Homo sapiens: one gene and its partners. The protein of the gene in region 6 interacts with the protein of the main gene of each other region in a biochemical or structural test. Each region holds a gene or a part of one and is shown on either strand. Other genes may lie near its edges. The genes, in order: PPARG, STAT6, HMGA2, TNIP2, ECSIT, NFKB1 and IRF8.

What was found.
Region 1: the proteins of NFKB1 (region 6) and PPARG form a complex in vitro, tested with the Homo sapiens proteins (one study listed by BioGRID).
Region 2: the proteins of NFKB1 (region 6) and STAT6 form a complex in vitro, tested with the Homo sapiens proteins (one study listed by BioGRID).
Region 3: the proteins of NFKB1 (region 6) and HMGA2 form a complex in vitro, tested with the Homo sapiens proteins (one study listed by BioGRID).
Region 4: the proteins of NFKB1 (region 6) and TNIP2 form a complex in vitro, tested with the Homo sapiens proteins (one study listed by BioGRID and IntAct).
Region 5: the proteins of NFKB1 (region 6) and ECSIT form a complex in vitro, tested with the Homo sapiens proteins (one study listed by BioGRID).
Region 7: the proteins of NFKB1 (region 6) and IRF8 form a complex in vitro, tested with the Homo sapiens proteins (one study listed by BioGRID).

The regions. Positions count from the first base shown.
Region 1 is NC_000003.12:12,410,667-12,415,015, forward strand, and holds part of PPARG (peroxisome proliferator-activated receptor gamma), read left to right. Parts: intron 1-4,349. UniProt on the Homo sapiens protein: Nuclear receptor that binds peroxisome proliferators such as hypolipidemic drugs and fatty acids.
Region 2 is NC_000012.12:57,104,458-57,108,806, reverse strand, and holds part of STAT6 (signal transducer and activator of transcription 6), read left to right. Parts: intron 1-507; 5' UTR 508-528; coding exon 529-644; intron 645-1,063; coding exon 1,064-1,202; intron 1,203-1,492; coding exon 1,493-1,576; intron 1,577-1,975; coding exon 1,976-2,114; intron 2,115-2,226; coding exon 2,227-2,279; intron 2,280-2,467; coding exon 2,468-2,616; intron 2,617-3,207; coding exon 3,208-3,339; intron 3,340-3,467; coding exon 3,468-3,656; intron 3,657-3,993; coding exon 3,994-4,081; intron 4,082-4,215; exon of another isoform or gene 4,216-4,220; coding exon 4,221-4,343; exon of another isoform or gene 4,344-4,349. UniProt on the Homo sapiens protein: Carries out a dual function: signal transduction and activation of transcription. Involved in IL4/interleukin-4- and IL3/interleukin-3-mediated signaling.
Region 3 is NC_000012.12:65,834,071-65,838,419, forward strand, and holds part of HMGA2 (high mobility group protein HMGI-C), read left to right. Parts: intron 1-4,349.
Region 4 is NC_000004.12:2,749,592-2,753,489, forward strand, and holds part of TNIP2 (TNFAIP3-interacting protein 2), read right to left. Parts: intron 1-3,898. UniProt on the Homo sapiens protein: Inhibits NF-kappa-B activation by blocking the interaction of RIPK1 with its downstream effector NEMO/IKBKG.
Region 5 is NC_000019.10:11,515,287-11,519,635, reverse strand, and holds part of ECSIT (evolutionarily conserved signaling intermediate in Toll pathway, mitochondrial isoform 1 precursor), read left to right. Parts: intron 1-442; 5' UTR 443-465; coding exon 466-561; intron 562-4,349.
Region 6 is NC_000004.12:102,602,020-102,606,368, forward strand, and holds part of NFKB1 (nuclear factor NF-kappa-B p105 subunit), read left to right. Parts: exon of another isoform or gene 1-12; intron 13-495; exon of another isoform or gene 496-967; intron 968-4,349.
Region 7 is NC_000016.10:85,909,162-85,912,661, reverse strand, and holds part of IRF8 (interferon regulatory factor 8), read right to left. Parts: coding exon 3,489-3,500; intron 1,093-3,488; coding exon 1,004-1,092; intron 1-1,003. UniProt on the Homo sapiens protein: Transcription factor that specifically binds to the upstream regulatory region of type I interferon (IFN) and IFN-inducible MHC class I genes (the interferon consensus sequence (ICS)). Can both act as a transcriptional activator or repressor.

The DNA of each region.
Region 1 (4,349 bases), on a different chromosome or scaffold from region 6:
AAATGGTCTTTCTAAATAGTGTGTGAAATATGAAACTAGTGAAGAATAAAATCAATATGGAAATGTAAACTTCTATGAAAACATTTCCTTACCCATTTAAGTTTGTGCATTCTGAAATTTACAATGGCCATCAAACCCAGTGACTCAAAGCTATTGGAAAGATATCTGTCCTTTTAAATCCTACACTTACAGCTAAACAACGTATGGGTTCTTTTCCCTTTATCTCTGGAAAAGCCCGACTGAGCTGGAATTTGCTCCCCAAAGGAAAGACATCAGGCAGAATCCTCAGAGAAAGGGGCTTAGGGACCCCAGTAGAAATAAAATCAGGATAGTAGTGCCAATTCATTTCTGGGGCTGCTGGAGAAGTTAGGCTTCTGGGATCATTCATCCATGTATCAATATTAATAAAATAAATTCTTCTATTGCCAGGACTGTCAGGAATAGCTAAAGATGTAAAAGATCTAAACCAGTGTGTTCTTTCAGAGAATAAGTTAAAAATAATATTTTATAGAGTTAAAAAGAAAAGCACTTGGATTTTTTTTTTCCAATGGCTGGACTCAGTTGGCCAATACCCTTGTTTGCCTGCTGAGTAACTCTTTGGCTGGCAATTGATTTTTTTAAGAGCTGTGGTTATGTGCTAGTTCATTAGCATGTGAATAATTCTTCATATTAAGTTTTCATTTGTTTGTCGTAAATCTCTAAACCCTGCAGGAAAGCAGAATATCTTTGACAGCTTTCAAACTTCACTTCTATCACACACAGCACTCCACCAGCACCTCTAGGAAACAGTGGTTCAAAAGGCCCTGCCCCAAGACCCCAGCATGTTAAGAGCGTTAGTTTAAAATCTCCAGTTCATCCTAGAACAATCATTTTAAAAGGAAAAAAAGAAGTGGGGAAGTCCTATAGAAAGCAATGGAAAGGGAAAAGTTCTCAACCCAGAATCGGGGCTTAGGTTCTAGTTCCTGGTTTGCTATAAATGGCACTTTGACTTTGGAATGTCTCTGGCTTCCGTTTATCCATTAGTCAGAGAATGATGGGACAGATTACTTCTGAAGACCCCTTATGTCCTATAAATCTCATAGTTCTCAACAAGAGGGAAACGGGAACAACAGGGGCAGAAACCAACGAGAGGCTGAGGAAACCAAACCAATGAGTTTTGGATTGTAGCTAACCGAGGAGAACCAGGTGTGTCAAAGGTGATGAAAGTCAGATGTGTAAAAAGCAAGAAGGAAACAAAATGAAGAACATGAGCCCTAAGAATTCAGTGTCTTTCCCTGGTAAAACTAAGAACATCAGGAAAGCCACACTCGATGAGGCACACATTTTTCCAAGCCAGTTTTCACTCTGACAGGGTTACCTCAAGTGATTGTTTGAGAGAGGGTAGAGGGGTTGACTACACTCATTCAATCTGCCAAATTAGAAAAGTCACCCAGAATACCCTGTGCTTTTTGAGTGATTTTCATGTTTATCTCCCGTAGCTTGCTATTTTGTTATTCAAAAGGAGTGTAAACTTAGGGCATTCATGTATAATACCTTTCATAACTCATGTTAAAATGCTGATGTTATTGGATTTCTCAGGAACACTACTGTTCTATTTCTCCATTCAAAAAGGTAAAAAAAAAATTAATTACTCTATTTTCATCATTAATCCCATTTCCCCCATTGTCTTTGTATTCTACATAGGAAGCATGCCATAGATCTATAATTGAATTTACTCATCTATATAAAACAGTACTTTTAATCCCATCCTGAAAATCAAAATATATTTTTGAAAATCAAAATATGTCAAAATTGAAAATCAAAATGTCAAAATATTGAAAATTGAAATATATCAAAATTAATTATATTTGATGTATCCCTCAAAAAATTGATTTCTCCTTACAGAAATCATTTTGCTTTCCTGGAAAAACACTGGGTTCAAGTGCAGCTTTCTTCATTCCGTTCTGGTCTGTCCAGTATATGAAAAGCACAAGCACACAATGACCAGTGACAGATTCACCATGAAGCTAATGAAGCTTCATGGGGCCCTTCCCTTGTGCAGAAGTCCTTCCAGTGCTTGGGGAAGGGCCGAAGCAATTTTATTCTCATAATTTGTAATATTTTCCTTAGAGAGACTCCACTACTGTGTATATTTTATGCCCCACAAAACCTGAATTCACCCCATCATGTCCCATTTGTAATTAAGCTTTCTTTCCTGTTAAGGAGGGACGCTTACCCAGCCCTTTGATGTACGGTCTGAAGATAAATACACTGTTAGCCCCCAACTAGAAGTGTAAAATCATTAAGACAAAATTTGAGAATGATACGGCTCCTATAATGGCAATCTTTGGATGATACTGTCCAAGCTGATGGAAAGTGTAAGGACTCCACTTTGCTTTGTAAAAAATACAAAAAAACAGCCATGGAAGTGCAGTACATTTTGTATGGAACATTGTACCACATTGTACCAAATGTCATGTTAAATTAATGATTCAAGATAAAATGCAGACCAAATTTGACCAGGGTTTTAAGAGGTTCTCTCTCCATAAAGCAGGCTGGCCACGATCTTCTCACTAGGTTTGAGGGTAAGGAGGTCCCCTGTGAAATATGAAAGTGAACTCTCTGCTATCTAAGAATTGGTGAATTGGTTGCAAAGAAAGGCAGACCAGGCCCACCCAGGGATCACTCTTGCAGTTTGACAGATCTACCTGGAGGCTGAAAGAATCTATGCAGCCTTCGGAAATGCAGTGAAAACAGTATAATCAGATATGACTAGGGAAAAAATAAAACAACTGGTGTTCATTTGCATGTCAACACCCAGAATTCTCTGCTAGTTCACCTCTTCTTCAGAATGCAGAAAGGATTGAAAAAGCTGGAATGGGGCCGGGCATGGTGGCTCATGCCTGTAATCCCATCACTTTGTGAGGCAGAGGTGGGTGGATCACCTGAGGCCAGGAGTTCAAGACCAGCCTGGCCAACATGGTGAAACCCCGTCTATACTAAAAAATAAAAAAATTTAAAAAAAATTGCCGGGCGTGGTGGTGGGTGCCTGTAATCCCAGCTACTCTGGAGGCTGAGGAGAATCACTTGAACCCAGGAGGTGGAGGTTGCAGTGAGCCTAGATTGCGCCATTGCACTCCAGCCTGGGCAACAGGAGCAAAACTCCATCTCAAAAAAAAAAAAAAAAAAAAATGAAATGGTTTGGCATGATGGTGGGGTGCTGATTCCTCTCTCTGTCCTTGAGTATTTACTGCCAGGAAATCCTGACCAACATCAATTGCCAAGGGGTTAAAGTCACATTGTTGTTAAATTGGGAGAGAAAATTAGCAGGATTTTGTGCCCTATGTTCAACTATTACAGAGTTTCAAAAACAGGAACCTGGAGCTTTATATGAGGGGACAGGGGAAGTAAAGGGGAAGAGTGACAAGGGTGATTTATCAGGGCATAGTTCCAGATAAATCACTTACATGGAGGTGAAAGAATTTCATGCATATGTTCTGTGCCAAGAAGCCAAATGGTTGAGCAGAAGCTCTGAAAGTTGAAGTGGGCAGTTCTGGGTACAGTCTTTCCACATGTGAAAAGGTGATGATTTTATATTCATGTTATTTGTACTCCTGCATGTGCAGTTGGTCTTTTCAGGTGTCCAGATCATCATTTTCTCATGACATGAAAGAAAGCCAATAAAGGCTAGTTGTGGTGGCTCACACCTGTAATCCTAGCACGCACTTAGGGAGGCCAAAGCAGGACGATCACTTGAGCCCAGGAGTTCAAGACCAGCCCAGGCAACATACATAGCAAGACCTCATCTCAAAAAATGAAATAATTTTTTTTTAGAAAAAGAAAGTAAATATTTCATTAATATAAATTATAATACACTGTAAAATGCCTGGAGGACAAGAAACACGTTTTCTCTAGGTTCTGTGAAAGCATCATTATCCATTCACATTTTTCTCATAATTAGAACCTGACGTTCTGGAAAAATACAGTAAATTTTCATCGATGTTACTTGCTCTGCCCCCCTTGTATTCCTCCCATTAATAATATTAATCCTGAAAAGAAAAAAAGAAAAAGGAAAGAAACCACCCAAGCAAAATGTTTAAGAAATACGGTAAGGACAGTTTGGTCCCAATTTCCTTAAAAATTAGAGCCACCAAGTAAACCTGTTTGGGGGTCCTCACATCTGTCCTCTTTTGGAGTTTGCTAAGTAGTACAGTTGAAGTGAATTTTTTGGTAACAAAAGTAAAAACTTCCAGAATAACTCCAGTAAAGGGTGTTGATGTGACGTACAAGTTTGGAAATATATTTAATATCTGAGACTCCTCAATGTTGGTGTTATTTCCTCCAGTTTAGAACAAACTTAATCTTTTGAT
Region 2 (4,349 bases), on a different chromosome or scaffold from region 6:
TTCAGGCTTTCCATGCTTGCTTTCAACAGGGCATCTTCGGTTTCGTACCTTTTATGTAATTGAGATTCCACAGATTAAAAGCTGACATTGCCTACCGCTTTAAAAAGTTTGGAAAGTTTTCCACTCATCTAACACTCATATTTTATAGATGAGAAGATCGAAGCCCACAAAGGGAAGGCTCTTTGCCCACAGAACCAGAGCCAGGTCTAGAGCTGCAACTAAATCCTCTGCCACTCTAAGAGAGCTCTCGCTCTACTGCCCTGTCTCCCTTTGCCTCCCCATCCCTCTGGCTACAGCTCAGCTCTTCCCACCCCTGTGTCTATCACTGAAGGAGTTACCCCCATCTCAGGCATTGACTCAGGATGCCCCTGGTTTAAGGTGGTCTGGCCATGAGTGGTGGTGGGGACGGTCCCTAGGAGGGCTATCTATGGGAGGTCCCTGGCTGCCCCAGGAGATAGGCCAAGTTTCTTGGGCACCCCTCAGAGTGGCCTTATTTTTCTCCTCCAGGCAACCTCCAAGTCCCAGATCATGTCTCTGTGGGGTCTGGTCTCCAAGATGCCCCCAGAAAAAGTGCAGCGGCTCTATGTCGACTTTCCCCAACACCTGCGGCATCTTCTGGGTGACTGGCTGGAGAGCCAGCCCTGGTGAGTCCTGGCTGCTCCCTGCTGGTCCCCCAAGTCTTCCCTAACTCATCTTCCTTCTCCTTAGATTTTTCTCCCCTCACCCATGGATTCAGAACTTGAGACCTGTTATTCCATGTGTAGTGACCTAGATTTAGCAGGGAGTCTGTGCCCCATCAAGACCAGGCTATGAATGTTGACAGATGGAGACCCCATCTCTTAGGAGGCTGAGCCGAAGAGGAGGGGGGTTTGGGCTGGGACAAAGGCACTTCTCATAACAGCTAGAAGACTGGGAAACAAGGCGCATGGGTGAAAGCTACAGAGGGCCTAGATGGAGAATAAGGAGCGAGAAAGGAACTGCTGAGCTTTTGGCTGTGGGGTAAAGGGTCAGGAGAGCTGAGGAAGCCCTGGCCTGAGGTAGCCTCATCCTGATCTTCCTGCAGGGAGTTCCTGGTCGGCTCCGACGCCTTCTGCTGCAACTTGGCTAGTGCCCTACTTTCAGACACTGTCCAGCACCTTCAGGCCTCGGTGGGAGAGCAGGGGGAGGGGAGCACCATCTTGCAACACATCAGCACCCTTGAGGTGGGGCAGGAGGGGAGGGGACAAGGCTGGGTGGGGCTGAGGTTGAACTGGGTTGAGCATTGGGCCCTGGAAGAAAATTGGTTGGATGCTGGAAGCAAATTGGTGTTCCTGTGGTTAACTGCTAGCTAGCAGGCAAATTAGATTTTAAAAGCATGCAAATGCACAAAAACTTCTGGAGTCTACAGTTGTGCTTCCTTATAGTATATGTGTGAATGCAGGCCTGGGGATTGGAGGGATTGAAGGACATGGGTAAGAGCAAAGCTCACTGTTTACCACCCTCATTTCTGTAGAGCATATATCAGAGGGACCCCCTGAAGCTGGTGGCCACTTTCAGACAAATACTTCAAGGAGAGAAAAAAGCTGTTATGGAACAGGTATTGTGATATTCCACCTCCCACCCCAACTCAATCCCCTGAGACTTTGGCCTGAGCCATGACAAACTAGAAAGAATTTGAACCTCAGTAAAGGCTCAGTGTTCTAGGCCCAGGAATGACCAAAGGAGGTTCCTAGGGTCAGAGTGAACCCCAAGTCAAGCTCAGGGAATCTTTCTATGAGGGACTGAAGGTAAGAGGCCGGGGAGAACAGAGCAAGGGATAAGGAGCTGATTCTGCTAGGAGCAAGGTCTTATCTCCACGATATTCCAAAAGGTCAGGAAGAACTGCCAAAGGGGAGAGGGGAACAAGAAAACGCTATCTGCAGAGCAGAGAGTGGAGGCCAGGTATAGAGGGATGAGCAGAGTGTTTCACTTCTTGGCATCTGTCCTTCCTGTGTAGTTCCGCCACTTGCCAATGCCTTTCCACTGGAAGCAGGAAGAACTCAAGTTTAAGACAGGCTTGCGGAGGCTGCAGCACCGAGTAGGGGAGATCCACCTTCTCCGAGAAGCCCTGCAGAAGGGGGCTGAGGCTGGCCAAGGTGGGGGCCAGGGTGGTTCTGGGGAGTGTGTAGGAGTGGTTGCCTCTTGGATCTCAACCTTATCTGAACCTCTAATCTGTCTGCACCCTTGATTTCTGCCCCCAACCCTCAGTGTCTCTGCACAGCTTGATAGAAACTCCTGCTAATGGGACTGGGCCAAGTGAGGTGAGTAATGGGCTGACAGGTGGAGACCTTGGTCAAAGTGCAGCTGGAGGGATGGAAGCTAGACCTCAGAAAGACACAGGCTGAAGTAGGGCAAGGGAATGCCAGAGGAGTGAGAAAAAGAGCCGTATCCCAGGAGCTGGGTGTGGAGGCAGCGTGAGGCCCTGGCTCAGGCCCCTCTCTGCCCATAGGCCCTGGCCATGCTACTGCAGGAGACCACTGGAGAGCTAGAGGCAGCCAAAGCCCTAGTGCTGAAGAGGATCCAGATTTGGAAACGGCAGCAGCAGCTGGCAGGGAATGGCGCACCGTTTGAGGAGAGCCTGGCCCCACTCCAGGAGAGGTTGGGCTAGGGCTGATGGGGAAGAGGGGGCAAGCTGGGGGTGGGCAGCTGACCCTGCTGAAGGCCCTACAGGTGAGAGAAAGAAGCCAGGCGGGAGGGCCTTGGAGTGGACCAAGATGCATAAAAGCCAGTTCCAGCGGGGCTGTGCACACTGTCGTTCAGGTCGCATCCTGTACAAGTGGGCCTAGTGGAGGGGCACAAGCGGGGACTCATCCAACCCAGGCTTCTCTCCTCAAGCCCCATGCCTAGAGGAATAGGAGGGCTTTTCCATTTGGTTTATTGGGTGGGAACACTTTCCAATTTGCCACAAAGCACTGTAAGTGGTGGCAGTTGTCCTGGGTGCAAGAGCCGTCGGGGGAGAGGCAGCTGGGTTTCCACAGGGGGTGTAGGCACTGAGAATGAACCTCCCACCCAGACCCTAGGCCAACAGATCACAGAACCCCCTTCAGCCCAGGTGCCTTGCAGCCACACCCACTACCCACCCCACTTCTCCACACATGATAGCCTTTCTCCCTGGGTATAGGGGAAGGGGGTCTGGGCCGGAGCAAGCAGCCTTAATCCTGTGCCCCCTGACCACTGTCCTGGCCCCAGGTGTGAAAGCCTGGTGGACATTTATTCCCAGCTACAGCAGGAGGTAGGGGCGGCTGGTGGGGAGCTTGAGCCCAAGACCCGGGCATCGCTGACTGGCCGGCTGGATGAAGTCCTGAGAACCCTCGTCACCAGGTATTCCCCGGGAGCTCCCAGTCTGGCCTAGAACAGACCTCGGGAAGAAAAGAAGGGGGCTAGAGCTGTGGGGAGGGCACCAGCAGGGACCTAGCCCCCAACTCCCCTTGTGTCCTCCTCACTCCCAGTTGCTTCCTGGTGGAGAAGCAGCCCCCCCAGGTACTGAAGACTCAGACCAAGTTCCAGGCTGGAGTTCGATTCCTGTTGGGCTTGAGGTTCCTGGGGGCCCCAGCCAAGCCTCCGCTGGTCAGGGCCGACATGGTGACAGAGAAGCAGGCGCGGGAGCTGAGTGTGCCTCAGGGTCCTGGGGCTGGAGCGTAAGCTGGGATTGGACCTGGGGTTGGAGAAGGGCTGTTAGGGTGATGGAGGCAGCCTGGAGGGCTGGCACTGAAAAGAGCAAGGGATGGGGAGGGAGGGCCATGGGATGTGGAGACCCTGAATGGTCAAGGCAGAGGAAAGGGAGGGACCCATTTAGGGCTGGAATGGGGTGGGGGCATCATGATTTGGCCAAGATGGGGACTCCTCCCTTAAGAACCCAAACAGAGACATGGAGATTTAGGGCTGGTGACAGTGGGTAGTCTACACTCACCCATGCACTCGCCACACCTGACGACAGTGAGATGAGCTCGTTCACACTCTGACCTCCCCTGGCAGAGAAAGCACTGGAGAAATCATCAACAACACTGTGCCCTTGGAGAACAGCATTCCTGGGAACTGCTGCTCTGCCCTGTTCAAGAACCTGGTGAGGGGCTTTGGGGTGCAGTGAGGGGGGCACCACTAGGAGACTGTGGGACTCTCCTTGGAGAGGATGTCAGGAAGCCCAGGAGGAGCGGTCTCTGTCCTCATGACCTCGCCCTTGCTCTCCCTCACCCCACCCACAGCTTCTCAAGAAGATCAAGCGGTGTGAGCGGAAGGGCACTGAGTCTGTCACAGAGGAGAAGTGCGCTGTGCTCTTCTCTGCCAGCTTCACACTTGGCCCCGGCAAACTCCCCATCCAGCTCCAGGTGAAC
Region 3 (4,349 bases), on a different chromosome or scaffold from region 6:
CAGGACATATCTGATATTCAACTCTGGTAAATGGTAGCACCTGGGTTTGAATTCACTTTAATTCTAAAGCTTATACTCTTTCCACTACCATGTGCTGAATGTTCTGTAAAATATTTGTTACAAGGTAGATTTCTGTTATCTCCAGTAACCTGAAATGCAGGTTGGAAATTACGCTTTGGGAAACCTTTGAAGGGCCACTCCAAAGGTTATAAAGGGATTGGAAATGTATGCCTTCTGCGACTGATACCCACAAGACTTCTGGTTCCCAAATAATATCATGGGGCTATGTCTTTGGGAATTGTAACACATCCAGAAGTTTTCTTCTTTGCTAAATGAGAGGGCTAGGTGAAATTATCTCTAGTTTTACTGAACTCTAGAATTCTGATGATAAGAGGGAAATAAGACACACATATAAACACTTTTCCTTCCTTTCCTCTTGCCCTCCCTCCCTCCCTTCTTCCTCCTTCCTTTTTTTCCTTCCTTCCTTCTTTCCTTCCCTCCCTCACTCCCTCCCTTCCTCCCTTCCTCCCTCCCTCCCTCCGTTCCTCCCTGCCTCTCTCTTTGCCTCCCTCCTTCCCTTCCTTCAACAAGTATATAGTGAACACCTCCTGTACACGAGGCACTAGTGCTAAGCACTGTTTTCAAGCTCAAGAGATGTATTTGCTAGTGAATTTCTTTCCTAATTAGTTTTTAAAATATGCAGTACATTGAAGAGCCTGGAGTACAGAACTTCTTAGAGAAAGAAATAATTATATTTCCCATTTAACATTTCTCCTAATCTTCATGGACTTGCTTCTAAATATATCATAAAATTAAGTGTACAGTTTTGAATCTGAAGTTTAAAACATAAAAATATTAATGAGGGCAAACAAGGGAGAAATGACACTTTTAATGAGATATGATTGTTGTAAATATTCGCATAATAGTGCTGGTAACAGTCTGAAATTTCAGTTCTTACCAATGAGAATTCCGACCATATCTCCCTTTTCTCTCTTGATGTGAGCAATAAATAGTGAGAATTAGTTATGCCTCTGTTATACATGGGTTTGTAGTATAAAGCCAAATTCTATTCTGGCAAAGGAAAACCAAATATACACTTCTACAGTATTGCATATGTTAAAACAAAACAAGCCTCCTGAATGTTTTGTTTGTCTTTTTTGAAAAATAATATCCTGAAGAGCATTAAACACAGGAAAACAATATTAAAGCTGATGTTTTCCAATATGTAAAAATCCTGGATCTAAGCTGGTTTACAAACTAAAACCCTAACTTGTTTTGCAGCCTTTGTGGAGTTTGATTAGAATGATTAAATAATGTGGGTTTTAAAGAACAATGAAAACCTCCCAGATTGACGCCACACAGCACAGCTAATGTGTTTCTTCTAGATGTAGTCTCAGAAGAGGGTTTCAGTTTACATGTAACACTGGCCTGAACGACCAAGGAGCAAGTTTGCTTTTAACAAGTCCGAGTGATAATCGTGATATTTTGCCCTTTAGTTAATGGTGCAAATTTTATTTCTCAATAGGCTTTTTGTAAATGAGATGCTCATTTAAAAGTCATCTTATTTGCAGGGCTTTTTCTGTTTTTGAGAGATTTGCTTTCTCTGATTTTGAAATACAGTGAAACTCTTTCAGAAAAAAAACCTCTCTCTTCAATAGATTTTAGATACACCCAGATCACATCATGGCCCCTGAAACATAACAACCGTGCAGAAAAAGCCTGGTGTAGCACTGTTAACTTCTAAGGTCAATAGGCTCCTTCTCCCACCCTGACTTCACACCCCCTTTTCAATAAAAAGGATTTCTATTTTCCATGTTTGTGTAATTTACTACTGGGTTAACTGTGCAATCTTACAGTTGCTTCCAAAGATTAAGTCAGATGCTGCTTCTGTGCTAGAGAACTCCACACTCATGTATAACTCACTATGCAATAGCCAAAGGGATCCTTAAAAGCCTCATTCTAAAGGTGACAGATGGGTGTGAAGGAATACTTGCATTGACCAAGGCTTCTGTGAGAGGAAACTAACTTGAAGAAAAACTCCCTTTCTGGGAGGCAGAGGCGGGCGGATTACGAGGTCAGGAGATCGAGACCATCCTGGCTAACATGGTGAAACCCCGTCTCTACTAAAAATACAAAAAATTAGCCGGGTGTGGTGGCAGGCGCCTGTAGTCCCAGCTACTTGAGAGGCTGAGGCAGGAGAATGGAGTGAACCCGGGAGGCGCAGCTTGCAGTGAGCAGAGACCGCGTCACTGCACTCCAGCCTGGGCGACAGAGCGAGACTCCGTCTCAAAAAGAAAAAAAAAAAAAAAGAAAAACTCCCTTTAAGGGTTCCATCTAGTTAGGAGTGAAAGAACACTTATGGAGCACCTCATGGGAGGCAGGAACTTCTAAGTACTTCTAGGAATGATGTCTCACAGGAGGAGTCATCTCCATTGCACGGATGAAACCAAATTGAGGTCTTCAAGGACCTGCCCAAAGTCATAAAGCTAAAATGGAAGAGCAGGAATTGGAATCTAAGCGTTCCAAGGTAGAGTCTGTGATCTTCTCAGGGCACCTCCCTCTCCATGAGGCAATGCTCTGAAGAGGGTATTATTTACTTGACACTCTGGGCTTTCGCTAAATTCATGCCCTTGGGACTGAAGGTAAGACAATGCCACTAACCTCTGACAACAAATGATTCCTTTGTGGAGCCATTCAAAAGTGATAATAAACAATGATTCAGAGTGTCCAAATCAGATGGTTAGATAGAACCCCTAAAGGCTACCAGGTTTTCTTTTGTCCTGGGAAATTAACTGAATCAGTGACAATTTTAGTTTCCTAAAGTATTTTTTTATGGTAGCAAATGCTTGTATACTACCGGGTAGTAGCATTGTTAAGAGGCTAGGAGCACAGTCTTTACAGTTAGACAAAACTGGGTTCAAATCCCAGGTCTGCCACTTACCTGCTTTGTTTGTGACCTTGAGCCAGTTGTATACCTAACCTATCTAAGACTTAGTTGTTCATCTACAAAATAAGAGGAATAATAATACCCACTTTATAAGGCTGCTGTAAGGATTAACGTAACACATGTGACTGACAATCGAGTGCCTGGGATATTTTAAATGCTCAATATTTGTGAGTTAACATTACAGTCATATAGAGTTTGCGTTAATTCATGGGACCTGTTGGATAGTAATGCCAGATCAGGGAGATACTATTTGGTGAGAAATGTTGTGGCTTATTTTATCTCTCATCTACCTGTCTGTCTATCTGCCTATCCATCTATCTGTTTGTCAACTATCATGTAAAGCTATTTGTTTTTACCAGGCAGATTGAAGAGAAAAAGAGGAAAGTTTCATTTGGCAGTGTAGACAGTCAATATCACTGTACCAAGTACCCCCACCGGCTGCTAACTCAGATAACAAAAGTAAAATGTGGAACAAGGTATCCTGGTTCAAGTTACCTGTATTTGTGTGTTAATATAGCCATGGATGATTCTTATACATGAAACAATATGTACTAAGTTTTCTTTATCCTAAAAAGCAGGAACACGTTTTTATAGATGTATGTGATATGTGTGTGTATTGGTGTGTTGTTGTGTATGAAGATTGGACTAGGGCTGACAAAAACGGAAAAACTAATTGCTTTATAAATAATGTTAACAACTGTGATATCAGAAAAATCTTCTGTGAAGTAAAGCAATGAAATAAACTCTCAAGATAGAAATGTATTCATGTTAAGTGTGGGATTATGGTTAATAAAGTACATTTTTAATTAATCATTATTTCTAGGCACATATAGTTTTAATCACTGGGACAAACTGATGATTTCTGCCTGCTTTTTTTTCCTCTGCTTTAGGTGAACTGATTGACAGGTGATTGTTTCAGGCAAGGAACATTAAATTAAACATGTAGAAGTGTGCAAATATTTGTTATTTTGAATTAGAATGCTTGTGTATTCTTTTTCACATTTATACTTGCTTTTGACTACCAATATAGGTAGAAGAGCTTTGTAAATTGTAAAGTAATATGTCAATATTAATTTTTGCAACTTTAGTTGTGACATGGAAAGAATCTTGATCATCTTAAGAAATATTAATTTTCTAAAATACTAACTTATGTAGTTACAGAATGTGGGGATAATGTTTTTAATATGGACAGAAATAAAAGCAAAATAGCTTTTGAAAAAGCATTTTCATGTATTTCAGAAGAGATCACTACAGGGGGTGTCTTTTAGGGCGAGGGGTTGCATAGATACCTCTTTACATCATGCAATGAAGAAGAATCTACTCAGAAATGTGGAAAAAGATTAACCTTAGAGGAGACGAAGTTTGTTAAAAAAAACAAAAAAAAAAAAACCGATACGTCATC
Region 4 (3,898 bases), about 100 Mb from region 6:
GGTGGCCCCCACAGGAAGCTGAAGAGGCGAGGAAGGGTCCTTCCCTAGAACCTTGAGAGAGAGCCGATGCCTTGGTTTCTGGCTTCTGGCCTCTAGAACTGTGAAAGATTAAATTTCTGTTGCTTGAAGCCCCCCAGTTTGTGTTACTTTGTTACAGCAGCTCTAGGAAATTAACACACCCAACCCCAATTACTTCTTAAAGAATTTAAAAAGGTTCTTAAAATGACAATTTTATTTTGAGATAGGGTCTCGCCCTGTCACCCAGGCTGGAGTACAGTGGTGCCACCATGGTTCACTGTAGCCTCCACCTCCCAGACTCAAGTGATCCTCTTGCCTCAGCACCCTAAGTAGTTGGATTACAAGTGCATGCCACCGTACCTGGCTAATTTCTGTATTTTTTGCAGAGACAAGGTTTCACCACTTTGCCCAGTCTGGTCCTGGACTTGAGTGATCCGCCTGCCTCAGCCTCCCAAAGTGCTGGGATTATAGGCACGAGCCACCACATCTGACCTGACAATTTTTTAATATCTGGCCTTAAATTTGTACTTTTCCGTTTTCAAAGAATCCTCCAAAATAAACAGTACATTACATGAAGGAGGTGAAGCAGGCTCAACTAGTCCATCCCACAAGTGAAGAAACAGTTTCAGAAAAGTCACGGAGGAGCCCAAGCTTCCCCCAGAAGTGGCGGGAGAAGGGTCCAGCCTCTGTGTCTAGTACTTGAGGTAAGAAGGGACAGAGACCGGGAACCTAGAATGTTCTCATCACAATGGAACAAAATACTAAGCCCTATTACTGCGAGAACCCTGATTATTATTATTATTATTATTATTATTATTATTATTTTATTATTTTAGAGACAGGGTCTCGCCCTGACACCGAGGCTGCAATACAGTGGTATAATCACAGCTCACCGAAGCCTTGAACTCCTGGGTCCAAGTGTTCCTCCCGTCTCAACCTCCCAAATAGCTGGGACCATGGGCTCGAGGTCAAGGCTGCAGTGTGCTGTGACGGTGCCACTGCACTCTAGCCTGGGTGACAGTGAGACCCTCTTCAGGGATAAAGGACTTTGAGCAAAACCTGACTTCTGGTTTTTTTTTTTTTTGATAAAGACAGGGTGTGGCTATGTTGCCTAGGCTGGTCTTGAACTCCTGGCCTCAAGCAATCCTCCTCCTGCCTCAGCAGGGGTCACCGTGCCCAGGTAAAATCTGATTTCGGAGCCTCCTTCCTGCGTTGGTCAAATGCTGACAGTAGGAGAAACAAACAGCTCCACAAACAGGAGGGCAGCATGTCCACAGCTCGTAGATCCTGAGGGCGTGGCTCTCTCTTGCCTCCACACCCTAGTACTCAACACTGAGCCCAGCCCCACACAGATGCCCAGTAAATGGGAATAAGACTGGGCCATACAGAGACAGATCAGGACGCAGGCTCTACGCTCAACCCGTGGGGGCAGGCCAGCCCTGCAAAGGGCTGCCCCACTCATCCTCCCCTCGGCAGCATGAGGGCCCCAGGACCCCTCCAGCCCCCGGGCTTCTGGCATTTGTCACTGGCTCTGAAGTTGCAGAGCTTTGTGCTGGTTTATCTGTCTGAGTGCCTTGTCCAGTTAGTAACAGTTCTTAGGACACAACAGCACCTCGACCACTGTGGTCAGAAAACAAGGTACGAGCTGGAGTTGTGGGTCTACACACACAGGCACAACACACAGACTAGTCAGCAACTGGGCTGACATCTCTCAGGAAAGCCTGTCGCCGGGACCCACAACTCCATAGCTCCACGCTCAGAACACAAAAGTGTAAACAGCTCTATTAATAGTCTTGTGGATTGGCCTTAAGAGGCACAGTGGCCTCTTGGCTTTTAGCGCTGCGGCAACAAAGTATCACAAACTTGGTGTCTTAAACAACAGAAGTGTATTCTCCCAAAGCCTGTAATCCCAGCACTTTGGGAGGCCGAGGTGGGAGGATCACTTGAGCCCAAGGGTTGGGACTAGCCTGGGCAACATGGCGAGACCTTGTCTCTACAAAAAATACAAAAAACATTAGCCAGGCATGGTGGTGGGCGTTTGTAGTCCCAGCTACTCGGGAGGCTGAGACAGGAGGATCACTTAAGCCCAGGAGGTCAAGGCTGCAGTGAGCTATGATCATGCTACTGCACTCCAGCCTGGGCAACAGAGTGACCCTGTCAAAAAGAGGGGAGGGGAGGGGAGGAGAAAGGAAGAAAGAAAGGAACAAGGAAGGTGGCCCGGGGCGGTGGCTCATGCCTGCAATCCCAGCACTTTGGGAGGCTGAGGTGGGTGGATCACGAGGTCAGGAGTTCAAGACCAGCCTGGCCAACATGGTGAAACCCCGCCTCTACTAAAGATACAAAAAATTAGCCAGGCGTGCTGGTGGGCGCCTGTAGTCCCAGCTACCCAGGAGGCTGAGGCAGGAGAATCGCTTGAACCCGGGAGGTGGAGGTTGCACTGAGCCAAGATCCCGCCACTGCACTCCAGCCTGGCGACAGAGCAAGACTCAGTTTAAAAAAAAAAAAAAAGGAACAAGGAAGGAAAGAAAGAAAAGAAGAGAAGAGAAAAGAAAAGAAAGAGCCAAGAAAACAAGCAAAGCAAAGCTAAGCTAAGCCGGAAGGGAAAGGGGGCTGATACGCCAGGACCAGGCAAAGCCTATGAAGCTGGTCCCGAGAATGGTGACAGGATGGGGTTGGGCAGGACCAGGTTGCACAATGAATTGGTGCCATTATTCCAGAAAGTATTAACTGGAGGGGCTTTGTAAAGTTATCCACTCAGGCCTTGTGTTACAGATGAGGTAAGGTCTCAAGTCCAGCTGTGGCTGCACTGAGGACCACAATTCTCTGGCCTGATCTTGCCCCATCACACACTGACCGCAGCTTGATCACAGACGCACTGGTCAGCTCCTCCACATTCTGAGCCTCAGCACTCTCTCTGGGAGCCCTCAGTCCCTACTGGTCCAGGGTTCCTGCTCCTAACGGGCTCTCATAGATGAGAGCAACCTAGCAACGGCTTGCTTCCTGCTGTGTCTTTAACTCTGCACTGCCACCTCAGTGAACCCAGGGCCTGCAGGAGGTGACAAACCTCTCCATTCTTCCACAGGTTCCATGACCGACCTCAGATTGAACGTTGGGATGAGCAATAAATATGTAATTGCATAAAATACCAGATAAGGCCAGCACAGTGGCTCACGCCTGTAATACCAGCACTTTGAGAGGCCGAGACAGGAGGATCCCTGGAGGCCAGGAGTTTGAGACCAGCTTGGGCAACATCATGCGACCCCTTCTCTACAAAAACTTAAGAAGTTAGCCAGGTGTGGTGGCTCATAGTCCTTGTGGTAGGCTCTTCGCCTATAGTCCTAGACACTCGGGAGGCTGTGATGGGAGGGCTGGTTGAGCCCAGGAGTTCAAGGTTACAGTGAGCTATGATGGCCCCAAGGCATTCCAGCCTAGGTGGCAGTGTCACAGACCAAGACCCTGTCTCTAAAAAAATAAAAATAAAAATAAAAAAACAAACAAACAAAACTAAATCATTAAAATGTTCCTTAAATAATTAAAAATCCCCCCATGCTGGGCGTGGTGGCTCATGCCTGTAATCCTAGCACTTTGGGAGGCCAAGGCAGGAGGATCACTTGAAGAAAGGAGTTCTAGACCAGCCTGGGCGACACAGCAAGATCCCGTCTCTACAAAAAAAAAATAAAATTAGCCAGGTGTGATGGCACACTCCTGTGGTCCCAGCTATATGGGAGGCTGAGGCAGGAGGATCACGTAAGCCCAGGAGGTTGAGGCCACAGTGAGCCATGTTTGTGCCACTGCACTCCAGCCTGGGTAACAGAGTGAGACCCTGTCTCAAAAAAATAAAAAAATAAAAATCCCAAAACAAAACCTACATGCTTACATG
Region 5 (4,349 bases), on a different chromosome or scaffold from region 6:
TAGTGGCTAGGAGTGCTGGCTCACACCCATGATCCCAGCACTTTTGGAGACAGAGATGGGAGGATCACTTGAAGCCAACAGTTCGAGACCAGCCTGGGCAACACAGCAAGACCCTGGGTCTCTGCAAACTATTTTCAAATTAGCTGGGCATGGTGGCACGCGTCTGTAGTCCCAGCTTCTCGACGCTCTGGGGCTGGAGGATCACTTGGGCCCAGAAGTTGGAGGCTGCATTGAGCTATGATCACGCCCCTGGGGCAGCAGGATTAGGGTGCTGTCCCAAGAACAAAGTCTTTGAGTCATCAGCCTGTTTCTTGGGTAAGGTAAACATTGGGGCTGGTGAGTGAGCCACATAATCTGGAGTGTGCCCTCGACCCTGCGGGGCCCTTGCGTCTGTTAGCATCTGTAAGGTGCCAGGCTAATGCTGAATCTTCTTTTGGGCCAGGTGATTGTCTGACAAGCAGAGGCATGAGCTGGGTCCAGGCCACCCTACTGGCCCGAGGCCTCTGTAGGGCCTGGGGAGGCACCTGCGGGGCCGCCCTCACAGGAACCTCCATCTCTCAGGTAAGCACCAGCCAGGCAGTCTTTTGGGTAGAGGGAGGTAAGCTTGGGATTTGCTCCCAACTCCTTCAGAATCCACTCTGTGAAGCCAGTTCTGGTGAGTCTGGGCTGGCCTATCAGTGCCGAGGTCCCATTAAAAGTCCTTAGTTTATGTATGTATGTATGTTTATGTGTTTGTTTTTTGAGACAGTGTCTCTGTCACCAAGGCTGGAGTGCAGTAGTGTGATTACAGCTCACTGTAGTCTTGACCTCCCAGGTTCAAGCAATCCTCCCGCCTCATCCTCCCAAGTACCCAGGACTACAGGCACATACTACCACACCCGGCTAGTTTTTGTATTTTTTTTGTAGAGACGGGGTTTCACCATGTTGGGCAGGCTGGTCTTGAACTCTGGGCTCAAGTGATCCACCTGCGTCAGCCTCCCAAAGTGCTGGGATTACAGGCGTGAGCCACCGCGCCTGGCCAAAAGTCCATAATTTATTTATTTTTTTGAAACAAGGTCTTGCTCTATCACCCAGGCTGGAGTACAGTGGTGGAATCAGGGCTCACTGCAGCCTCAAACTCCTGGGCTCAAATGAGCCTCCCACCTCAGCCCCCTGAGTAGCTGGGATCACTGATTTGAGCCACCATGCCCAGCTAATTTTTTTTTTTTTAGATGGAATTTTGCTCTTGTCGCCAAAGCTGGAGTGCAGTGGCGTGGTCTTGGCTCACTGCAACCTCTGCCTCCTGGGTTCAAGTGATTCTCCTGCCTCAGCCTGCCGAGTAGCTGTGATTACAAGTGCACATCACCACGCCCAGCTAATTTTTGTAATTTTAGTAGAGACGCGGTTTTGCCATGTTGGCGAGGCTGGTCTCAAACTCCTGACCTCAGGTGATTCACCCGCCTCGGCCTCCCAGAGTGCTGGGATTACAGGCATAAGCCACCGCACCCGGCCGCTAATTTTTTTTTTTTTTAAGTATATGGTCTTGTTGTGTTGCCCAGACTGGTCTTGAACCTCTGGGCCCTCAGTCCTTCCACTTTGGCCTCCCAAAGTGCTAGGATTACAAGTGTGAGCCACTGTGCCTGGACCCTAATTTAAGAGATGCTAGTGCCTACGTGGGTGAGGGGATTGACTTTGAAAATAAGGATGTATGAGCTCGGTGGATTTGTGTGGTGACTGTGAGCAGCTCCTCCTGCATCTACTTGTGAAGATGGGGCAGAAAACTGAATTTCTTTCCTATACCCATAGTGACCAGATGGCGAAAGCAGATTGACAGCCATAGATAGCAATAACGATGATGGTGGGAATATTAATAGTTCCCATATTGAGCACTTACTCTGTGCCCGGCCCCGCACTATGCATTTCATTTACATTACCTCCTTTGCAGTGTTTCCCCCTCGTTAGGCATTTTAGAGCTTCCTTTCTGATTTTTACCCCAAAGTGGTACAATACTACACCACCTATATTATTAATTGACTGAAATTTCAGTTGTTTTTTGTTTTTGAGATGGAGTCTCCCTCTGTCACCCAGGCTGGAGTGCAGTGGCGTGATCTCAGCTCATTGCAACCTCTGCCTCCCGGGTTCAAGTGATTTTCCTGCCTCAGCCTCCTGAGTAGCTGGGATTACAGGTGTGCGGCACCACACCTGGCTAATTTTTGCATTTTTGGTAGAGATGGGGTTTCACCATGTTGGCCAGGCTGGTCTCAAACTCCTGACCTCAAGTGATCCACCCGCCTCTCAAAAGTGCTGGGATTACAGGCACGAGCCACTGCGCCCAACCTGAAATTTTACTGTAAATGAATGCCTTTTTTTTTTTTTAACATTGCCTTATCAAAGAACGATATGGGATGGCTGTGGGGACCGCAGAGTAGGGGGACTGAGGGCACTGACTCCATTCTCAGCTCTGATGCTTTGCAGCTGTGTAACACTGTGCATCCCACTTCATCTTCCTGAGCCTTGGTTTTTCTCATCTGTAAAATGAGTGCAGTAAGAGTACCCCCCACCTAGGGCCTCACATTTGTAAAGTGCTCAACTGTGTCTACAGTGGAAGAATATTTGGTAAATATTGTCTCTTTCTTTTGAGATAGGGTCTCGCTCTGTTGCCCATGCTGGAGTGTAGTGGCGTGATCTTGGCTCACTGCAACCTCGACCCGCCAGTCTCAATTGATCTGCCTACTTCAGCCTCCTGAGTAGCTGGGACTACATACATTCACCACCATGCCTGGCTAATTTTTGTATTTTTTTGTAGACATGAGGTTTCAGCAGGTTGCCCAGGCTGGTCTCAAACTCCTGACCTCAGGTGATCTGCCCGCCTCAGCCTCCCAAAGTGCTAGGATTACAGGTGTGAGCCACCGAGCCTGGACTAATATTGGCTCTTACTTGTTAGCGTTTTGTGTGTGTGTGTGTGTGTGTGTAGATAAACACACACACATTCATTTATTTTTTAGAGATAAGGTTTTACTCTCTCGTTCAGGTTGGAGTGCAGTGACACAATCATAGCTCACTGCAGCCTGGGATTCCTGGGCTTAAGCAGTCCTCCTGCTTCAGCCTCCTGAGTAGCTGGGACTACAGGTATACACCACCACGCCCCGCTTATTTTTTTATTTTTTCATAGAGAGATGGAGTCTCACTATGTTGCCCAGGCTGCAATGCGGTGGTGCAATCAAAGCACAGTACAACCTTGATAACTAGCTGTATATTTTTAAGATGCCTTATATGTAACCCTTCTAATTTAAAAATTCAATTTAAAATAAGAAATTTGTTACTGTGTCATCTAGAACCAGAATTTGGCTACTCTGGAGGCTGAGGTGGGAGGATCACTTGAGCCCAGGAGTTCTGGGCTGTTGTGCACTATGCTGATGGAGTGTCCTGCACTAAGTTTTGCTTAATATTGTGACCTCCTGGGACTTGGGGGACCACCAGGTTGCCTAAGGAAGTGTGAACTGACCCAGGTTGGAAACAGCAGGTCAAAACTCCTGTGCTGACCAGTTGGCTCATGCCTGTGAATAGCCACTGCACTCCCGCCTGGGCAACATAGCTAGACTCCATCTCTTAAAGGGTCCCAGCACTTTGGGAGGCCACGGTGGGTGGATCACCTTAGGTCAGGAATTCGAGACCATCCTGGCCAACATGGTGAAACCCCGTCTCTACTAAAAACACAAAAATTAGGCCGGGCATGGTGGCTCACATCTGTAATCCCAGCACTTTGGGAGGCCGAGGTGGGCGGATCACAAGGTCAGGAGTTCAAGACCAGCCTGGCCAACATGGTGAAACCCTGTCTCTACTAAAAATACAAAAGTTAACTGGGCATGGTGGCATGTGCCTGTAATCCCAGCTACTTGGGAGGCTGAGGCAGAAGAATTGCTTGAACCAGGGAGTCAGAGGTTATAGTGAGCTGAGATCGTGTGACTGCACTCCAGCCTGGCAACAGAGCGAGACTCCATCTCAGGAAAAACAAACAAACAAAACATAAAAATTAGCTGGGCATGGTGGCAGGCGCCTGTAATCCTAGCTACTTGGGAGGCTGAGGCAGGAGAATCGCTTGAACCCACAAGGCAGAGGTTGCAGTGAGCTGAGATGACACCATTGCATTCCAGCCTGGGCGACGAGTGAAACTCTGTCTCAAGAAAAAAAGAAAAAGAAAGAAGGGGCTGGGTACAGTGGCTCATGCCTGTAATCTCAAGACTTAAGGTGGCTACGCCGGGCGCGGTGGCTCATGCCTGTAATCCCAGCACTTGGGAGGCCAAGGCGGGCGGATCACGAGGTCAGGAGATCGAGACCATCCTGACTAACACAGTGAAACCCCGTCTCTA
Region 6 (4,349 bases):
CTCACTCCAAAACTATGGCCAAAATCCTGTGTAATTATTTACTTAGTAAAGATATTTGTTCCTGCTCTCTCAGTTTTTATAGCAGTGATGTGAATCATTTCTATTTCCTCACTTTAAAGGAAAATGCTTTTATTATTTTAAAGAAAATTAATTAAAACTTCATTTTCTTTAAAGGAAATTAAAATATCTATTTTCTTATTTTTATTTCCATTCTTTAAAATGTGCTTTAGGCTGGGTGCGGTGGCTCACACCTATAATCCCAGCACTTTGGGAGGCCGAGGCAGGCGGATCATGAGATCAGGAGATCGAGATCATCCTGGCTAACATGGTGAAACCCCGTCTCTACTAGAAATACAAAAAAAAAAAAAAAATTAGCCAGGCATGGTGGCAGGCGCCTGTAGTCCCAGCTACTCGGGAGGCTGAGGCAGGAGAATGGTGTGAACCTGGAGGCTGAGCTTGCAATGAGGCGAGATCGCGCCACTGCACTCCAGCCTGGGTGACAGAGTGACGCTCTGTCTCAAAAAAAAAAAAAAAAGTGTGCTTTAAAGTGCATTTAAAGCAAAACTACTAAAACGTTTACATGTGGCTCTTAATAGTTTTTACCTGTGACTAGGTAAAAATTAATAGGTTTCCTGATAGGGGAAAATGACCATTTTTCATTCAATATAAGTCACCATTAGGCTTCTTCACTGGCTCTTGTGCTTCTTGTCAAAGGAAAAGTAAAGTTAGTGACTCTTCACTGCCTGTTAATATAAAATAACTAGTATGAAGTGTGATTGTAGATTTACATTTAAAGGATGTCTTCTTGAAACTTTCATACCGTTTTGGGGTCATTGGTATCCGTAAGGTCATTTTGCCTGTAAAGCTTGATTCTCGCAGACTTTTGGCTGATTGTTCCTTGTAGTCATCACAAATCTATGAATAAAACCAGGAATGGGACATTGTAGCTTGTCAGTCCTCTTTTCAAACCCTGCTTAACAGTCATATTCAAGGAATTACTTATTTTATGTTTATAAATAGGATCTGCAAAGGACACAGCACAACAGGATTAGTAGCTGTGATTTTTTTTTGGAGACAGAGTCTCACTCTGTCACCCAGACTGGAATGCAGTGGCGCGATCTCGGCTCACTGCAACCTCCACCTCCCAGGTTCAAGCGATTCTTCTGCCTCAGCCTCCTGAGTAGCTGGGATTACAGGCGTGCACCACCACACCCAGCTAATTTTTGTATTTTTAGTAGAGATGGGGTTTCACCATGTTGGTCTGGCTGGTCTTGAACTCCTGATCTCGTAATCTGCCAGCCTCGGCCTCCCAAAGTGCTGGGATTACAGGCATGAGCCACTGCGTCTGGCCAGTAGCTATGATTTTTTTTTTATATCCTAAACTCTTTACTGTATCATTTGGTTACATATGTTGAGACTCTCCAGTGTGTTAGAGACAAAAACCCTGAAACCGCCACCATTGATACTTCTATCCCTTCTGATTTGGGGACTCTCAGAAGACTATACGTCCATTTTTCCCCTACCTTACCACCAGTCTGATTAATGGGCAGTGATTCTGGCTTCCCTAGTATGCCTTCTAGGTGTCAAACACACACCCAATGGCAACTTTGATTTGAGAATTAGAAACTGCTAAGATTTGAACTCTTGATTATCTGTTGTAAAGGTTCTCTAGTAACTATTCTTAATGGAAAATGATACAGTTCTCTAAATAATTTGGATTATTTGACAGTTAAGCATTCTTCCCAAATACCTTTCACTAATCTAAGTACATTTCTGTGACCATCTGTCATGATCAAATTCCTCTCCCCACCCACCCTCTAGAAACACACTCAAAATAGTCCAAGTGCACCGAGTTAGGATTTTTTATGAAAATATTCTCTTTAAGCCTTTTTCTCCTTTCATTCTCCTTCCCCCAACATAGACAACCACTCTATCGTGTTTGGTATGGATTGTTTTATTTGTGTATGTTCCCATAAAACATTATTGGAGGGTTTTATGTATTTTTATGTTTTTAATTATTATACATATCATGTATATTCATAGTTTTAAAAATGGTACAGAAGAATCTACATTGGAAAGTCAAAGTTGCCCACCCTGACAATGCCCAGGTCTGCTAGCACAAATGTCACTATTGTGTTTATAGGTAGTTTTTCAAGTACTGGATACAAATGTACGTATACTTGAAATACATAGATATTTTCATATACTCTCACATACAATCCACATTATATTAAATGTACTTCTCTTGCCTTGCATTAACCTTTAAAATTTTTTTAATTTAATTTAATTATAGATTCAAAGGAGGTTACAAAAACGTACTAGGAAGTCCTAGTATTTACTGCAAGGAAACCAGAGGTCTCTTCACCCAGTTTCCCCCAATGGTAACATCCTGCATAACCTCAGAACAGTGTCAAAACCTGGAAATAGACGTTGATACAATCCACAGATCTTAATCAGATTTCACCAGTTTTACACACACTTGTGTGTATCTGTATAGTTCTTTGTGCATATATTTTTTAAATGCCTAAGTGGCATTGTGCTACATGTTACTGTATTTCTGCCTTCACTGCTTATCCACACAGTTCTACATATAGCTAGTTTGTTGTTTCAGCTCCTGAAGAGAATCTAGTATGGGTCTTTCACCTATAACATCCTTGTTTCCTAGTAGTAGACATTTAACCAACTTCTAACTTCCTACCTCAGTAGATAATACTGCAGTGACTGTCCTCACTTATGTCCTCTTGTGGATTTGTGTCAGAATTTCACCCAGATACATCTGCAAGAGTTGGGTTGCTGGGACATTTGTATATTTGGCTTTCCAGAATGTCTGTGTAAGTCCCCATGCCCACAGCCATAGCATGAAGGTATAATTGTTTAAGATATAATCCTTGGATTTAAGAACTAGAAGGTTTATATCATGGAAAACCATTGATTGGACTGTGGAAGAAAATATTAAAAAAAAAAAACCTCTCCGACTCATAAGATATTTTTTAATTAAATTCAAGCTACAGATAATTTATAATTCCTGAATGGTATACTATCTTATAATTTCAGATCCTTTTTTCACAATCTCATTCTCTTTCCTTTTCCCATCTCCCCAAGTAGCATTTCAGAAAACACAGATTAGTAAACACAGTTTCCATTGACTTATTTTTGAGAAGAAGGCTCTTGGCAACAATATCTAAAGTTTTGAGGACATCACTTCATTTCAGGCCAGGTTGATAGTCCTAGAAAATGAAAGAAATAAGGGCAAGTAATAATTTGGCAAAAAAAAAGGGTCTTGTATAGTAAATAATCACTGTAGTTGAGATTTAGACTACCCTCCCATCATTCATCCTGCCAGTTATCATGTGCTGTGGTCACCTACACAGCTAGGAGGTTGGTGGCTCACCTGCTGCTGTAGCCAGTAACTGCTCAATGAAAAGGGAATTTTAGGCAAATTGTCACAAGACTGGCTGGATGTCATAGTTAGGCTCCTGTGAAATAAACTGATTTGTATAAAGATACATTGCTGTTCTCTGTCAGTGAACTCAGTTATTTGAAAGATACGTTTGTGATTGTATTTGTCTTACTCATTTTTGAAAACACACAGTTTGCAAAACATCTTATTTGCATTCACCGAAGTAATACCTTGTGGGCAGGATAGTCAAATGGACTATTTAAGTACCTATTAGGTATCAGCAGCTCACCTTTTTTATTCAGCTGAGCCCCCTTGGTGAGATACTTGTATTATCCTGGTTATGTTATTTAGAATCTTATAATACCTTTTATGAAATGGGTGTAGGAAAGCTATATTGACTGGTCTCAGGAGCCAGTCCATGGGACAGTATTTTTTAATTTAGTAAATTTAGTTTCCATGTCAGCATAGAATCATGGCACTTTTGTTAATTGGTTTCTATTGAGTACTTTATTTAAATTTCTTCAGTGAAAACATAGCCTTAATTTGATTTGTTAATATAAAATTATCAGCTGGAGGTAACTCCTACCAGATATTTAAGAAAACTAAATTTACTACTAGGTGTGCTCAAAATCAACAATCAGTGGGTTGTAGTGAGAAACAAGAAGCTATTAAGACTTGTAAATATGAAAATAACCCACCACAGAAAAAATTGTAAGTATATGAAGTGATGGATTTGTAACTTAGCCTGATTTAATCATTTTATGTTGTAAACTTAGATTAAAACATCACATTGTACCTCATAAATATATACAATTACTATTTGTCAATTAAATTTAAGATAAATAAGAATTTTAAAACATGAATTATTGAATGGCTAAGTGTTAGTACAGTATATGTACTTCATTAGCATATAGTATGGAACAGGATAACTTGGGTGCCAAGGTCAGAA
Region 7 (3,500 bases), on a different chromosome or scaffold from region 6:
TTGCTTTTCTTGTGACCCCGGTGTGGCAATCCGATTATCTCACTCTCTCAGCTGAGTCAGCAGAAAAGCCTTCTACAGAAAACAGGACATTGGTGGAGGGCCACGAAGCCAAGAATTCACTCAGTCGGCTGCCAAAGACCACCCAGACACTTGGCAGCTGCCTGTGCAGAAGAGCAAGGCCGTTCGGGTAGGTTACATTCTGTTATCTTCATTCTCTGACAGCCAAGCTACTCTTAAGGATTCCATTATTGCTATGTTATTAAGAAGAAGAATTTATGCAGTACTCACACACAACCTTTTGCAAAGGCTGCACGAGGTTTAGTCATGCAAATGTCCACCTTGTAATACCCATGAAAAGCATAGTTAAGAGGCCAAAGACAGAAGAAAAGGGCATCCCAATAGCTGAAATGGGTATACAAAAGCCATGTATTCTTGCCTAAGGAGGCCCCGATTATGCTCTCCCTTGTAGCCTGTTAGGAATTTATGTGCAATGTGAACATGCTTGGTTATCCAGCTTTCCAATCCGTTAAGGAATAAAAACTGCACATTAAAAAGGAAGCAATCAAATAGCCATGAGAGCTGGTACAACAACACCCGCCATCATGACAAGCGCAGGCAGCAAGGAAAGTTTACATTTTGTTCTCTGTAGCCTGCTAGGAAGGCAAGGGAATTCACGATGCCATTTAAAAGACTGCTGTCCAAAGTGTTCGAACAGTTTGGAGCTGGAAGGAACTTCACTGACACATAACCGGCAGCTCAGGCCCAGCCCTAGGGATGAAGGAGGGATCTGGCGTGAGGGGTTGACCTGTCGGCAGAAGCTGGCCTGGGGAGGGGGCGCCCAGCCAGTCCTTCCGTTCCAGATCTGTACAGGTGGAGATGCCACTTCCTCAGCGAGCCCGAGGGTCTGGCTGCCTTCATACAGCAAGAACGGTGCCCCTCCCTGCCAGAAGACATGAGACTCCTCCTGGCAGGGCCAGACCCCTGAAATGCTGCCTCTGCTTACCTCCTTGATCAGCTCGTCGATTTCAGAGCGACCGCACTCCATCTCTGTAACTTCATTCACGCAGCCAGCAGTTGCCACGCCTAGTTTGCCTACAGAAAACCAGACAAACACCATGACACATGGCACGGAGGCATCACAGCCTTTGCTGAAGCCATAATCTACTCTGTAAATGCTGAGTTTAAGGAAACATTAAGTTAGTGAGTGTCTTCATTGGTTTGGGAAAGGCACAGAATTTTTTTCCCATGCTTCAGTCATCTGATCAGCAAAGTCAAAAGAGAGAAGTTGGTGGTGGTGGTGGTGGTGGTTGTTTCTGCTAACACTTTTAAAGGATAAAGACAGCACTTTGGTCTCTTTCTTCTATTTTCTGAGATCCAAAATGAGTCTGTATCAGATATACTTTACAGCAAGCATTTGCTAACTTAAGAAGGTTACATTTATAAGACAGGGCATTTGAAAACACTCACCGATTTCCTGGCAAAACGTGTTGGCAGGTTGGGGTCTTTTTTGTATTGCCAGTTGGCAGGAAATCTCTTTTTGGCCTTTCCAAATATACACATGTGCATCAGTGCACACAGCCATGCACACACACACACCGCAGCACCCTCACTGATGCCCAGTGGGCACCAGCCGTAATCACAAACCGCCTAAAGGTGCACAGTGTCCACAGGGGCACGCTGGGCCAGCCTCTGCTCTTTCCCTTCTCATGCCGCTTCCTCAGTCGACAACTTACCTTATGAAGTTTATCAGTGTGAGACGTATCACAACCAACACTTACAAAAATTCATTATTCCCAGTGACCTACAGAATTTACCCACTGTTTCCTCCTGGCTGAATTTTGATTCCATTTCGATAGATTAAAGAATTCACTGAGAAGCTACTGATGGGGAAGTAGGGAGCAGGTGGGGCGCCCACCATGGAGCCTGCAAACCACTGAGGTTAGAGGCGAGTGGGCCCCTGTAGGCAATTATGCAAATGCTACATTGCTTCACCCCTGAGAACCTCCTGCTGCTTCTTTAACATCACTAGCAGGTGATGCTGGCTGCACCCCATGCTATAAACAAGTTGGGGTCACCTGCCGGTTCAAGCCTGACTGATCTTGGGGGTGGCAGTAGGGGCCAAAAGAAACTTCTCTATTCCTTCAAATCACACTTTACTTTTTGGTGATAAAAAAAATTGTCCAAAACTGGGAAATGAGGCAAAAAGATGACTGCTTAGCCTTTCAGGGTCACCCCAGACTATTATATAGAGGTTTCCTCCTAAAGGGCACCCGATTCTCCAAGGGAAGGTCAGTTTGTTGGCCTTACTATTTAGTATTGACTAGGGTTCACGCTCAGTAGAGTTAGGTGCTAATTGCAGACGATTAGGCTACAAACGCCCCAAACCGCAATTGTACTGTCCGGGTCGGGCATCGGCTTTGGCTCAGCTTTCTCGTTCATGGGCCACATTCACCAGCACCTCGGATTCTCTGTCCACCATCTTTACCATCATGCTGCCTCCTTCATGACGATTACACAACTCTCTGACACAGATTCACTATAGATTTGTTTGAATCACCATTTTAACTTCTTAAAAAATTCTAAGTCAACACCCCCACAGCGGGAAGAGTGCAAACTTCAAACTTCTGCACAGCCCCAAGAAGTTTTGGGGGTTTCTGTTTCTTACAGGCATTCGTGGACTACTCAGAAGCTTAGAAGGAGAAAGCCAGAGTGGGTTATTCTAAAAGCCTCATCAAGTGGCTAAGAAAATCAATGTGTTAAAAGCATGTTCTAAACCAGCGCTGGTAATTAGGTTTTATCTCATAAATCAGCTACAATTCATGGCAGCGGCACAGCACAGGGCTTTGAGAAGCCTTCTGAGGCCAGATCCCAGCTCAGTACTTTGGGATTTATTTTAGTGATGTAGGACCAGGGTGCGGCATGTTTTTGCTGTCCTGCTTTAATCTGTCACAAATGCTTTCTTGGGATTTGAGAGCTGGAAGAAACCTCAGGAATGATCACATCCCGGAGTTCCCAAATAACAATCAGGATCTAGTAACACACTGAGGCATATCCCATCTCCAACAACGAAGGCCATGGTGCCATCTTTGACAACTTCATCTGAGAGCTTTACTCCCAACCCTCATGATCCAGGCCTTCTGTGGTCACCATATTTTCCCCTGGCCTCCTCTGCAAGCTGCTGGAAAATGAAAGGATTCCTCATCAGAAACTGCTGGAGGATGCTTGTTCCTGTCCAGGGAGGCCCTACAAATGTCTGTGGTCAGGCAGCAAGTGGGGCACAGGTTGGGCAGCACCCAATCTCCTCCGCCCTTCCCTCTGAGGTCACTGGAAAGAGATCTCAATTTCTGCTTACACGAAGGAGAGAACTGCTTTGTTTAACTGAAACTATGTGCCCCAGACCCTGTGTCTACCCCAGACCCAAGTTCTGTGGTGAAGGCTACAGGCCAGGGCAGCTTCTGGAAGGTTTCATGCCCATAAAGGATAGTTACATTTTTGCTCTT